3 linked regions of the Homo sapiens genome follow. The protein of the gene in region 3 interacts with the protein of the main gene of each other region in a pairwise test. Each region holds a gene or a part of one and is shown on either strand. Other genes may lie near its edges.

Evidence for each region.
Region 1: the proteins of ADTRP (region 3) and CMTM7 interact in binary tests that used the Homo sapiens proteins (3 or more experiments, as listed by UniProt).
Region 2: the proteins of ADTRP (region 3) and TMED8 interact in binary tests that used the Homo sapiens proteins (3 or more experiments, as listed by UniProt).

Annotation. Positions count from the first base shown.
Region 1 is NC_000003.12:32,436,840-32,440,493, reverse strand, and holds part of CMTM7 (CKLF-like MARVEL transmembrane domain-containing protein 7), read right to left. Parts: intron 1-3,654.
Region 2 is NC_000014.9:77,339,091-77,342,744, forward strand, and holds part of TMED8 (protein TMED8), read right to left. Parts: intron 2,899-3,654; coding exon 2,681-2,898; 3' UTR 1-2,680.
Region 3 is NC_000006.12:11,776,675-11,780,428, forward strand, and holds the start of ADTRP (androgen-dependent TFPI-regulating protein), read right to left. Parts: upstream 2,130-3,754; 5' UTR 2,086-2,129; coding exon 1,933-2,085; intron 1,068-1,932; exon of another isoform or gene 920-1,067; intron 1-919. UniProt on the Homo sapiens protein: Hydrolyzes bioactive fatty-acid esters of hydroxy-fatty acids (FAHFAs), but not other major classes of lipids. Show a preference for FAHFAs with branching distal from the carboxylate head group of the lipids.

The sequences.
Region 1 (3,654 bases), on a different chromosome or scaffold from region 3:
GAATCTATTTAAAATGCACAACCAATTTAGAAAAAAGATTATTTTATACACTGCCTCTCTCCTATGGAGGAGTGATTCTTTTTTTTTTGAGATGGAGTCTCACTCTGTTGCCCAGGCTGGAGTGCAGTAGCATGATCTTGGCTCACTGCAACTCTGCCTACGAGATTCAAGCGATTCTCTTGCCTCAGCCTCCAGAGTAGCTGGGACTACAGGTATGCACCACCATGCCCAGCTAATTTTTGCATTTTTAGTAGAGAGGGGGTTCCACCATGTTGGCCAGACTGGTCTTAAACTCCTGAACTCAAGTAATCTGCCTGCCCCAGCTCCCCAAAGTGCTGTGATTACAGGTGTGAGCCACCACGCCTGGCCAGAGCAGCGAGTCTTAAAGTGTGTGTGTGTGTGTGTGTGTGTGTGTGTGTGTGTATGCGTGTGGTGTTAGTGTATGGGTGTGTTAGCGTATGGGTATATGATTTTGTGTCCTATGGGACATTTGGCAATGTGTGTATATATTTTTGGTTTACACAATTTGCGGGGATGGGGGTTGCTACTGGCATTTAGTGGGTAGAGGCCCAGGGTGCTGCTAAGCACCCTGCAATAAATAGGAGAGCTCCCATAGTAAAGAGTTACCCATCTCCAGCCCCAAATGTGGCCCCTCAACTACAGTACTACTGTTGAAAAATTCTGCTATAGAAAATGTCAGTCTACAATGAGAATTAAATCACAAAATGGGGCCTGGTGCATGCCTGGCATCCCAGGCTCACGCCTGCAATCCCAGCACTTTGGGAGGCCAAGGCGGGTGGATCACCTGAAGCCAGGAGTTTGAGACCAGCCTGGGCAACAAGCAAGACCCTGTCTCTACAAAAAATACAAAAACTAGCTGGGCGTGGTGGCATGCACCTGTGGTCTCAGCAACTTGGGAGGCTGAGGTGGGAGGATCAATTGAGCCTAGGAGGTTGAGGTTGCAGTGAGCTATTATCACGTCACTGCACTCCAGCCTGCAAGACAGAGTGAAAGTCTGTCTCTAAAAAAATAAAAATCAAATCAAATCACAAAATGGATCTTACTCCAGTTAAAACAGTTGATGCTGAAATGCTCTTATTTTCTAAAGCCCCTTGTTGCTAGCCCACTATCAAGATCCTCAGCAATAGGTACAACAGCTAAAAGAGAACTCTCAGCTGGAAGCTTGAAGCAGGTATGGAGAGTGCTCTGCTTACCAGATCGAAACAGAAGAGTGTGGCTGTGACACAAAGAGTCCCTCAACATTTGTGTATTTCCCTTTGCTAATGAGCAACGCAAGTGTTTTCATTTTTTCGGTTCCTCTGAAGCTAGCCAGCCATGGTGATATAATGATTCACACCTCTGCCTTACTCAGGAGTGTGCATGATCGCCAGGGCTTTGCTGCTACGTTAGTCTTACTTCCAGGCCACATCTACATGGGGAAGTCTAGGGGTCTTCCCAGCCCCACAATGACCTCCTCAAGAACTCAAGTATCATTATTCAAGGCATGACTGAAAATGCAGATAATGTGGGATTATGCAGCGTGATTCCTAGGTAGAGAGGCAATTTTGCATCTAGTTTAATGCAGAGATTAAAATAATTTTCCAACTCGTCGTTGAAGACAAAGTTAGCTCTTTTTCATGGTGACACAGGGATGTGGAAGTTTCCCAGCCAACAAAAGGGGCCTGTGCAGGTCAGGTCTTCCTGCTCTGAGCCTCCAGGGCTGAGTACTGTGTAGTAGGAAGTACATTCCTGCTCTATCAGAAACATCTCGAACCTTTCTGGGAAACTTGCTCATGAAATAACACTTTCTGAATTCGGTTCACTGGGCCTATGGCCATCTACCATATGACTTTCTTTAGGAAAGCCCAATTTTAGAAAATCTAATTTAGCCAGAGTATGGTGTGTGCTTATGCGTGCTCCTAAAAGCTTCCTTTTTGCCCAGGGATTCATTCATTCCAACTTTAAATAGCCAGCATCTTAGCCAGCATATTAAGTTAAAAAAAAAAAAAAGATTTGACTGACATCAAACTTTTCAGAAATTCTTCTAAAGCCAGTAGGTAACTTCTGCAAATGCTGGGGCCCCCTGAATTATTTAGAAGCTTAATTCCTGGGTGACAAAATAATCTGTACAACAACCCCCTCCCATGACACAAGTTTACCATATAAGAAACCTACACAAGTACCCCTGAACTTAATATACAAGTTAAAAAAGAAAGCAAAGGTGAAGTGGAAGAAAGAACAAGACAATAGTGGGGAAAAGGCGCTGGGGTGTTTATCCCTGCCCTCCTCCCGCCAGCTCCAACCCTCTCAGGTGTCTTCGTGTTCCCAGTTAGAAAAGCAAATGCACAAACACGCCTGAATTCAGAGAGGACTGGAGGTAGGGGTTCTGACTTCAGGACGGAGTGAAGCAGCTGGGAGGCTCCTGGAAGACAGATGTTTCTGTGTAGAGTAACTTCAAAGTGATGCTGTCCAAAGGGTTCACTTGCCTCTTAAGGTGCCTTCTAGCTCCTCTCGTAACGGTTTGTTCTTTTATATTGAACTGTCATAAAAATAAAATATCTAACATAAATGTCCAGGGGTTTATTTTATTTATTTTATTTTTTTGAGATGGAGTCTCACTCTGTCGCTAGGCAGGAGTGCAGTGGCAACATCTCAGCTCACTGCAACCTCCACCTCCCTGGTTCAAGGGATTCTCCTACCTCAGCCTCACAAGTAGCTGGGATTACATGTATGCGCCACCATGCCCAGCTAATTTTTGTATTTTTAGTAGAGACAGGGTTTCACCATGTTGGCCAGGAGAGTCTCGATCTCCTGACCTTGCGATCTGCATGCCTTGGCCTCCCAAAGTGTCGAGAGTACAGGCGTGAGCCACCGCGCCCGGCCTATTTTTTTCTTTTGAGACAGAGTCTCACTCTGTCACCCAGGCTGGAGTGCAGTGGCGCTATCCCCACTCACTGCAACCTCTGCCTTCTGGGTTCAAGCGATTCTCCTGCCTCAGCTTCCTGAGTAGCTGGGACTACAGGTGTGCACCACCACGGCCGGCTAATTTTTATATTTTTAGTAGAGACAGGGTTTCACCATATTGGTCAGGCTGGTCTCGAACTCCTGACCTCAAGTGATCCACCCGTCTCAGCCTCCCAAAGTGCTGGGATTACAGGTGTGAGCCACGGTGCCCAGCCATGTCCAGGGGTTTAAAAGTAACACTGCAAGAGCCCTCAACTCAAAGCAAGGGTCCCACAGACCAGCCATGATACCACAGAATCACTGGAATTAGAATTCCAGATAAGAAACATCACTCCCTGGAACCTGTGTCCTTTCTGACTCCATTCTGTCAGAATTCTTACTAGAAAGAAGACATGATTTTTTGGAAGGAGCAGAGGGTTTAAATTTCACAAGAGATGAAGGAAGCTGACATGATCTGAGAAAAGTGATGGTCCCCTGAGGACTCTGGAACCAAACTAGTCTGGTTGCAGCTTGAGTGTACACCCGCAACCAGCCAGGTGCCAGAAAGTTTGCCCAGGTTCTCAGCCTGGCTGAGCATCCTTCCAGAAAGAAATGAGATTTTGAGGTCTACGATGAAAAATCTCTACAGAAAACTCAAGAGGCAGTTTTCAAGAGACGTCGGCTTCTGATTGGGCTGGGGAGGTGTCTGGT
Region 2 (3,654 bases), on a different chromosome or scaffold from region 3:
CTGTCTCTTAGAATTTGCTGGGCTGTGGGTTCTCAGTAATTACCTGTGCTTCAGTAAGTAGTATCTTGCCCCTAAAGTTCAATTATTTCAGAAATGTAACATGAAAATAGTGAATTAGACAGTGAAAATATCTTCTTTTAGCTATTTTGTGCTAATGGAACACAGAAACCCTGACAGTTGGTGAAAAACCAGTATGAATGAAATGTAACCATGCCCAGGACTTCAAAAGTGACCAGACCCTAAGAGGCACACAGAGGTGAGGGGAACAAGTCCCTTAGGCTTCCCTGATGCAACAGAACTAGGATTCCAAAGAAAATAAGCAGAGAATCTCATGGTGAAAATAAATAATAACAAGTGTTATCCTTGGGAGCTTGCTGTGTATGGCCTGACTGTTTCAATTTGAGAGAAAGGCAGAAGTTAATAATAAACAGGAAAAATAAGCAAGGCTTTAGCTGACTAGAAAACAGCTCAGTAGAAAATTATTTTACAAAGATTATATTCAGTTAGCTAAGGCATGATTCAACTTCAATGATGCAAGAGCGGTCACTCAGCTATCCAATGGGATGACACACAGCAAATCAGCTCTTCACTGCCTCAACAGACAGTCACTAAAATAATTTCTTTAAAGGTATATAAATGTTGGCCAGTGTAATCCTCTACAAAACACATTTGCAAATATAAAATAATGGAGGTATGATGCTGCTCAGAGAATGGGAATGCTCTGGCAGTCCCCAACATCCTATCCCACTTGGGGCTTTGCTCCGAGGGGAAGAGCAGGTGCAGGATATATTGCCCTTTGATGTGATGTAGATGCTACTAGGGACCCACTGGGAAGAGTCCCGTTCCTTGAGTTATGCTACTGTAGGGATAGACCCTTGGTGTGAGGAATCTAACAATGAGTCAAAGGAAACATCACAAAGAAGGTGACACCTCAGAGGAGACAAAGGACTCTGAAATCCTGGAATCACGGGATATCTCTGATTGGTTAGGGAATTCCTCTGCACTCAATCTCCAGCAAATGGGCAGATTCCCTCACAACTTAGAATTTTTCATGGGGAGTGCTGGACTGTACCCCAAACATGGAGTAAGGTGGCATCATCCATCTCTGAAGGGCCATACTCCTCGCAAAGCCGTCACAGGACTGACCTACAGAAATAAAACATCATCGCTTCCCAAATTCTCCTAAAAATATCATCTTTAACTCCATAAAAGAGGGGGCTTCAGTGGCTCAGAACAGATGGGAAGCCTTCTGAGAAACAGATGGAAACTGTTTCAAAGGCAAAATGAAATGTGCTAAAAAAATAAATACAGTAATAAATAAATCTAATTATTCTTCAGAATTCGTAGGCAGTAACAGACATAACACGAGGAGTAAGAGACAGGGAGGTACAAACACAGAGACTGCTGAGGTCCCATCTCACCTCCGTCTCCTCCTCCGCCTGGGGGCCCAGCAGCTGGTGCTCTGGTGACCACTGGCTGCAGCACTACCTGCACTCTGTGGCACTCCTGAGCCTCAGGGGTGACACAGTAGGAAATGCTGTCACCAGGGAAATGCAAGCTTTGGTCAGGTAAAGAACAAATACAATCAGCAGCAATAGTGAAGCTTCATTATCACCTAAACTAAGGGACTTTGAACACCAAAAGCTTTAAGCCCTCAATGCAAGAAAGCTAAATGCAGAAACTTTGGAAACCTGATTGGGTTTCACTGCATTTGATTCCAAAGCAACATTTCTAAACAGCACTCCTACTCTAAAGACAAAAAAAAGCGGTGGGGACTCTGGAGTGTTTTTTGTTTTTCATCTTCTCTGTCAGATGATACCATTCCTTCTTTGATTATACCAAAAAAAAAAAAAAAAGTAACACGACTTTCAAATATGTGGGTTCTGACATCAATTCAGTACCTAATTTCCACTCTCTCCACTTTGACTGCCAGTGCCCATAGTAAGGGAAACCAGCTCTTGGAATAGGAAATAATGGGGGCAGTTTTTCTTCCCACAAGATCTTAGGTTACATTGATCATCACTTGAGATTGCATGAATGTTCTTGCTGTAATGGCAAAAACATAGACTTAGGAAAGAGAAAGGAGGGGGTGTCTACCATCAGGAATAGTAATAGCCCTCCAAAGGCAGTGTGGTCTCCCAGCTATGCAGAGACCAAGAATAACCAGCAGGCAGGAATATGGCAGTGGTGACAGGCTGGATAGAGCTTTCTCCAACCAAAAGATGGGGCTCCTTCATGGGCAATGTGCTTTTCCCTCTTCTGGCACCTCAACAACTGAAGAGAGTGGGTGCCACTAAATGCACTGGCAATAAGGGCTGTGGGAGAGGAGAGGGCAGCAATCTGAATGATAAACCTGTGCCAAGATGAATCTATTTTTAAAAAACATCGCCCTGCTTCCTTTTAGGCTTGTGCCCCATAGGTGCCTTCAAGAGGGAATTTGCTGGAGTCTGAAGCAAGAAGGGTATGAGTCAGGGACTACAGAACAGGGGCACTACACCACCACCTGCAGAAGCCAAGAAGGGGAAAAAGCTACGTGGGCCAACAGTCAGGCATGCCAGACAGGGTGTGAGGCTCAGCAGCCCCCCATGAACCTTTGGCTCTTGCCTATCCCAAACAAGAGGCACCAGCTGGCAGCCTGCTTCAGCCAGCAAATACAGCCTGCCCCTGTCCCAGCAGTCCTTCAGCTGGTGTAGTAGATGTGGAAGTAGAGAGTCTTGTTGCGCAGCAGGGAGTAGGAGTTGTCGAACTTGAGCAGGTAGATGCCCTCACCAGGGTAGTCATGGCTGCCAGCCTGCACGTCTCGGTGGCTGTCCCGCCGGTACACAGGCATGACCTCCCCATAGCGACCCCGCAAGGAGCTCCTGGAGCCTCTCTCCACATCTCCAGCTGGAACGGGTTCTGCGTGAGCAAAATGGCAAAGTGTTCAGAGACTGCGTAAGTCCTGCCTGAAGGTGAGCGGAAGGACCAGGTGACCCAGTGGCTTTCACAGAGCGGGGAGATTATTGCCCTCCTACAGACATTTGGAAATGTCTGGTGATCTTTTGGTCATCACAGTGACTATTAGGTGATATCTGCATTTAGTACCCAAGGGTCCAGGAGTGCTAAAATCAGGATAGTACCTACACAACAAACAATGTCCCATCCCAAATGCCAATAATGTCTCCACTGAGAAAATGATTTAGCCTGAGAGGAGCCTTCCTAGCTTCAGAAGTGTCTGGACATTTCTGAGAGGGAGAAAGAGATATTTAGAAGAAAAGATCCCGATATTCTATCATTTAGTAGGTGAAAGGACTAGCTAACGAAGATAGGAATTGCAGATAAACGTGCTATAAAGTGACCCTAGGATTCCTGAAAAGCAGCAAATAAGATACAAGGTTCTCCGCTTTCCCAGATACCTGTAGGTTTCCCTGCCCGCTTGCTGTTCTATGAAGAAGCACGTTAAAGGACTGACTTTAAGATTATATAAGAAAATCAAGGAATAAGAGGAATAAGACTAATGCTTAGGACCTACTCTTACGTTATCTGAAAAATGCCTCTGGGCCATCCTTTGTGTAGTGTGTAGACACTACAAATAACAGCCGGAATGGAGCCCGGAGACCCTTTTAAAACTTGTCTGGGCATGAAGTAAAGAAGTAACCAATAGCCAGCTATGAG
Region 3 (3,754 bases):
AGGATAGAGAGAACACCGGGCAGAGAAGTGACAGCAGGAAGCCCAAGGACCAATACTAGTGAGACGCAGTCCTTACTGCAGAAGAGACCAGCCTCCCAGGGAGAGGGAACCCGAAAGGCTGGTTGGGCAGGTGAGCTCTTGAATCGGGAGTTTGACATTGGGTCCATGAGGCAGGAGGGAGCCACTGTGGTTTCCTGAGCGGCAGGCCACACTTTTAGATCCAGGTCATGGTATTAAAAAACAAACCAAAACCAGTGCTTTGAGAAGATTAATTTGGAATCTAAGTGGCTGGATTGGACCATGAATGGACAGTAAAGAGATGATATGGTCATCCAGGTAGGCTTAATATAAGCCTGGAATGAGAGAGACAGTAGTAAGGTTGAAGAAGAAAGGATGAACTTAGTAAAAGGAAAAACTAATAGGATTTGGTAGCTGATCAATCAGGGAAGCAAAATTGGGATTAACACTAGGAAATGATAGTATCATTGACAAGATAAGAGACTTTTCTCACTCTTGGAAAATAAGGGCTCTTGGAAATGTAGGTGAGCTAGAATTAAAAAGTCAGGATCAGTTGTGTGTGTGTGTGTGTGTGTATACAAAGAGGTAAGGGAGCTAGTTAATGAGTGTGGTGATAAATCTATTCTTAGCCACACATAGTGTGAGGTAGGACATTCATACTGGAATTGGATTTTATTAGAAAGTCAGTCCTAACTACAGACACACTTCCCTTTTAGTGGACTGTTTTTCATAGAAAGCCAATAGAGACACAAACCTTAGGGGTGTGTGTGTATGCGCGTGTGTGTGTGTGGTTTTTTGTTGTTGTTGTTTACTGTGGCACTGCTAGTTATACAAAAAACATTTTTTGTTTTGTTTCTGTTTGTTTTTCTCATAAAATTCCATGATTGAAACAAGTAGTCACCTTGAAGTTTTCAAAGACACTAGAGCTGTGTTCAGGGTTCCAATTTTTCAGGCCCAAATCAAGAGGCCACTAACCAACCAGTGAGGAGGAAGCAGCCACTTTGGGCCTCTTTGATTTTAACTCTCTCCATTTCCACGTCCTTAGCATTTCAGAGTGTCACAGTTTCTGACCACATACATTCTCCGCTTGTCAAATGAGGATTACAATTCTGAAAACAGATGTTTATGTGGCACCCAAGATTTTAGTCAAAAACCTCAAATATTAATTCACATCCCCAAATGATTCCCCATTATTAGCTTTTAACTTTAAAAGTATTTTTTTAAGCTATTCCTCAAAGTATTTTTCATAATCTGCTTTTCTCCCATTCATTCACACTTCATCAGAATGCAGTCAGCCAGGTTAGGAAGACAAGAAAGGAGTAAGTCATAAGATTGGTTTTTAAATAGTTGAAAATGTGTATTTGCCATTCGGTTGGGTGATTTGTCCTTTAAGATGGAGCCTGAACCTATAAAAAATTGAGGTGGGAGCTGAACATGGCAAAATGTGTTTGCTTTTCTTAGATAAATCTGTTAGTCTGTGTGTGCTGTAAAATGGCATTATTCCTTCATTGGAAATTACACTTCCTACACACCATACGCCACTCTGCCTTCTCTTCACAGACTTCCCCAAGCAAAGTTCAAAATGCCTCCTGCATTTGTAGTTAATCCCATGGTGAAACCATTAGCATGGTCCCCTCTTTGAGCTCATCTGAAAAGAGCTCCAAGATGAGATTTTTTTTTTCAAGAGAGCATTTAACAATGAGCCAGCATAGAAATGTTAACTATAGATAATTTCCAAATTGGGTTTATCAGAGCAAATTGTTAAGTAAACAAAAAACCCAAAACTCACAAAACGGTGAAGAAGGAAGACAAATAACAAAATTGTGTATTTAATAAAATCCAAAGATGATATGTGTGGCAGCACTGATATTCTAGAGAAATGGATCGGTTCCTGGTACGGACATATGGACTTACCAGATTAAGCAGCGTCATATATTTCCACCTTGCACCATTTGCCAAGATTTTGGGTTTCACCTCGTCTTTTCCTTCCTGTGAGATGTAATAATTGAGGAAAGTATACCAGCTCAGAACAAGGAAGTGGTATATGCATGTAGAAGTCTTCGTCATGGCGAGTGCTGACCGGGGCACCGTGAATGTCTTGAGTACTTTCTGGCGTCCTTCTGTGGGTCACAGCCTAAGTCCAACAGCAGGCCGGAGAGCTACAAACCACACCCCTCTGGGACTGAGAGTTCCAACACAGGCTGAATTTGGTTCTCTTTTAAGCTCCTTTCCTGATAAACTTCAGAGGCAGGATTACTGCTGGTTTTCAGATGCCTGCATTTAGATAATGATAGATAATCTGTAGATTTGCATAAAATACAACATGTGGGCTTTGAGAAGGGCAGGTAGCAATGCAAGAGCTGTACATTGTACTGTTTCACTAGGGCACTGGGGCAGGGGCATGGTTAAATGAAGTAAGCATGAAATACTAGGAAAATCTAGCGAAATACTTCCATGGCTGTAGTCTCTTTTCTTTTCATTTGCATATAACAAGGAAGTTGCAACCTTATCTCTTGAGAAAAGGAGGAGCAGGTTGATAAACCAGATCATGGGTGTGCTTAGGGCATGAACAGTAGAAAGGAAAAGTGTGTTGTAATTTTGCTCCTGAGGTCTCTGAGATTCTAGAAAGTCTGCAACAACCTTTGATCCTCCAGGGAGCAGCTCCAATGGTTTCTTTTCTTTTTTTTTTCACTTTTGTAACTATACCCTAGAGAACCAAGAGTAACCCAGGGCTGTCCTAGACACTCCATTTGCATAGGCATTTCTGTGCCCTGGGAGGGAAGAAGCAGCACAGGAGACCATCCTTACTATGGCCATGACCCCAAAATACCTGACTTTAGACATTGCTGGGAGAGGGTGAGAGTCCCCGCTCTGCCATGAATAGGATGAGACGTGGCTGGGCTAGGCAGCATGCCGGACTAGGCTCTGACTCAGGTTCCACAGAAGGGAACTGAGGAAGAACTAGAAGTGGATGCCTTGTGACATCGCCAGCTTGTTTCCCTGGGCAACTGACTCCGAGGGGTGAGCAAATCCCTCAGAGAAATGCTCCTGACACAGTTATGTAAGTCTGTAATTGGTGCTTTTCAATGACTTAACCAGGGCTTAAAAGTACTAGCAGAAAGAACTGTAGGCTGGACAAGGAGGACAAACCATAAACAAACCCACCTCCTAAGAGTCAACAGACTCCCAATATCAGGATTGGGAGATGGGAGGAGAGCAAACCTGAGCCCGCCATGGAGTTCTGCATTGTAACCATGTTTTTTTTTTTTTTTTTTTTTTTCATCTGTTGGGGCTGCTATAACAACATACTGTAAACTGGGAAGCTTGGAAACAACAGAAATTTATTTCTCAGTTCTGGAGGCTGGAAGTCCAACATCAAGATGCTGACAGAGTGCCTGGTGTTTAATGTGGGTCGGTTTCCTGGTTCATAAATAGTGCCTTCTGGCTGAGTCCTCATGTGGTAGAAGGGGCAAACAAGCTCCCTGAGGCCTGTTTTATAAGGTCACTAATCCCATTCATGGAGATGCTGCCCTCATGACCTAATCACCTCGGAAAGCTCCCCTCTCCTAATGCCATCACCCTGGGAGTTAAGATTTCAACATAGGAATTTGCAGGGAACACAAACATAGACCATAGCAAACCATTCTCAAAGGAAGGGGTGATCTGGGAAATGGGTACATAAAACTCTGTACAAAACTCCACAGCCTGGGCTAAATTGCAAATAATAACAGAAGCT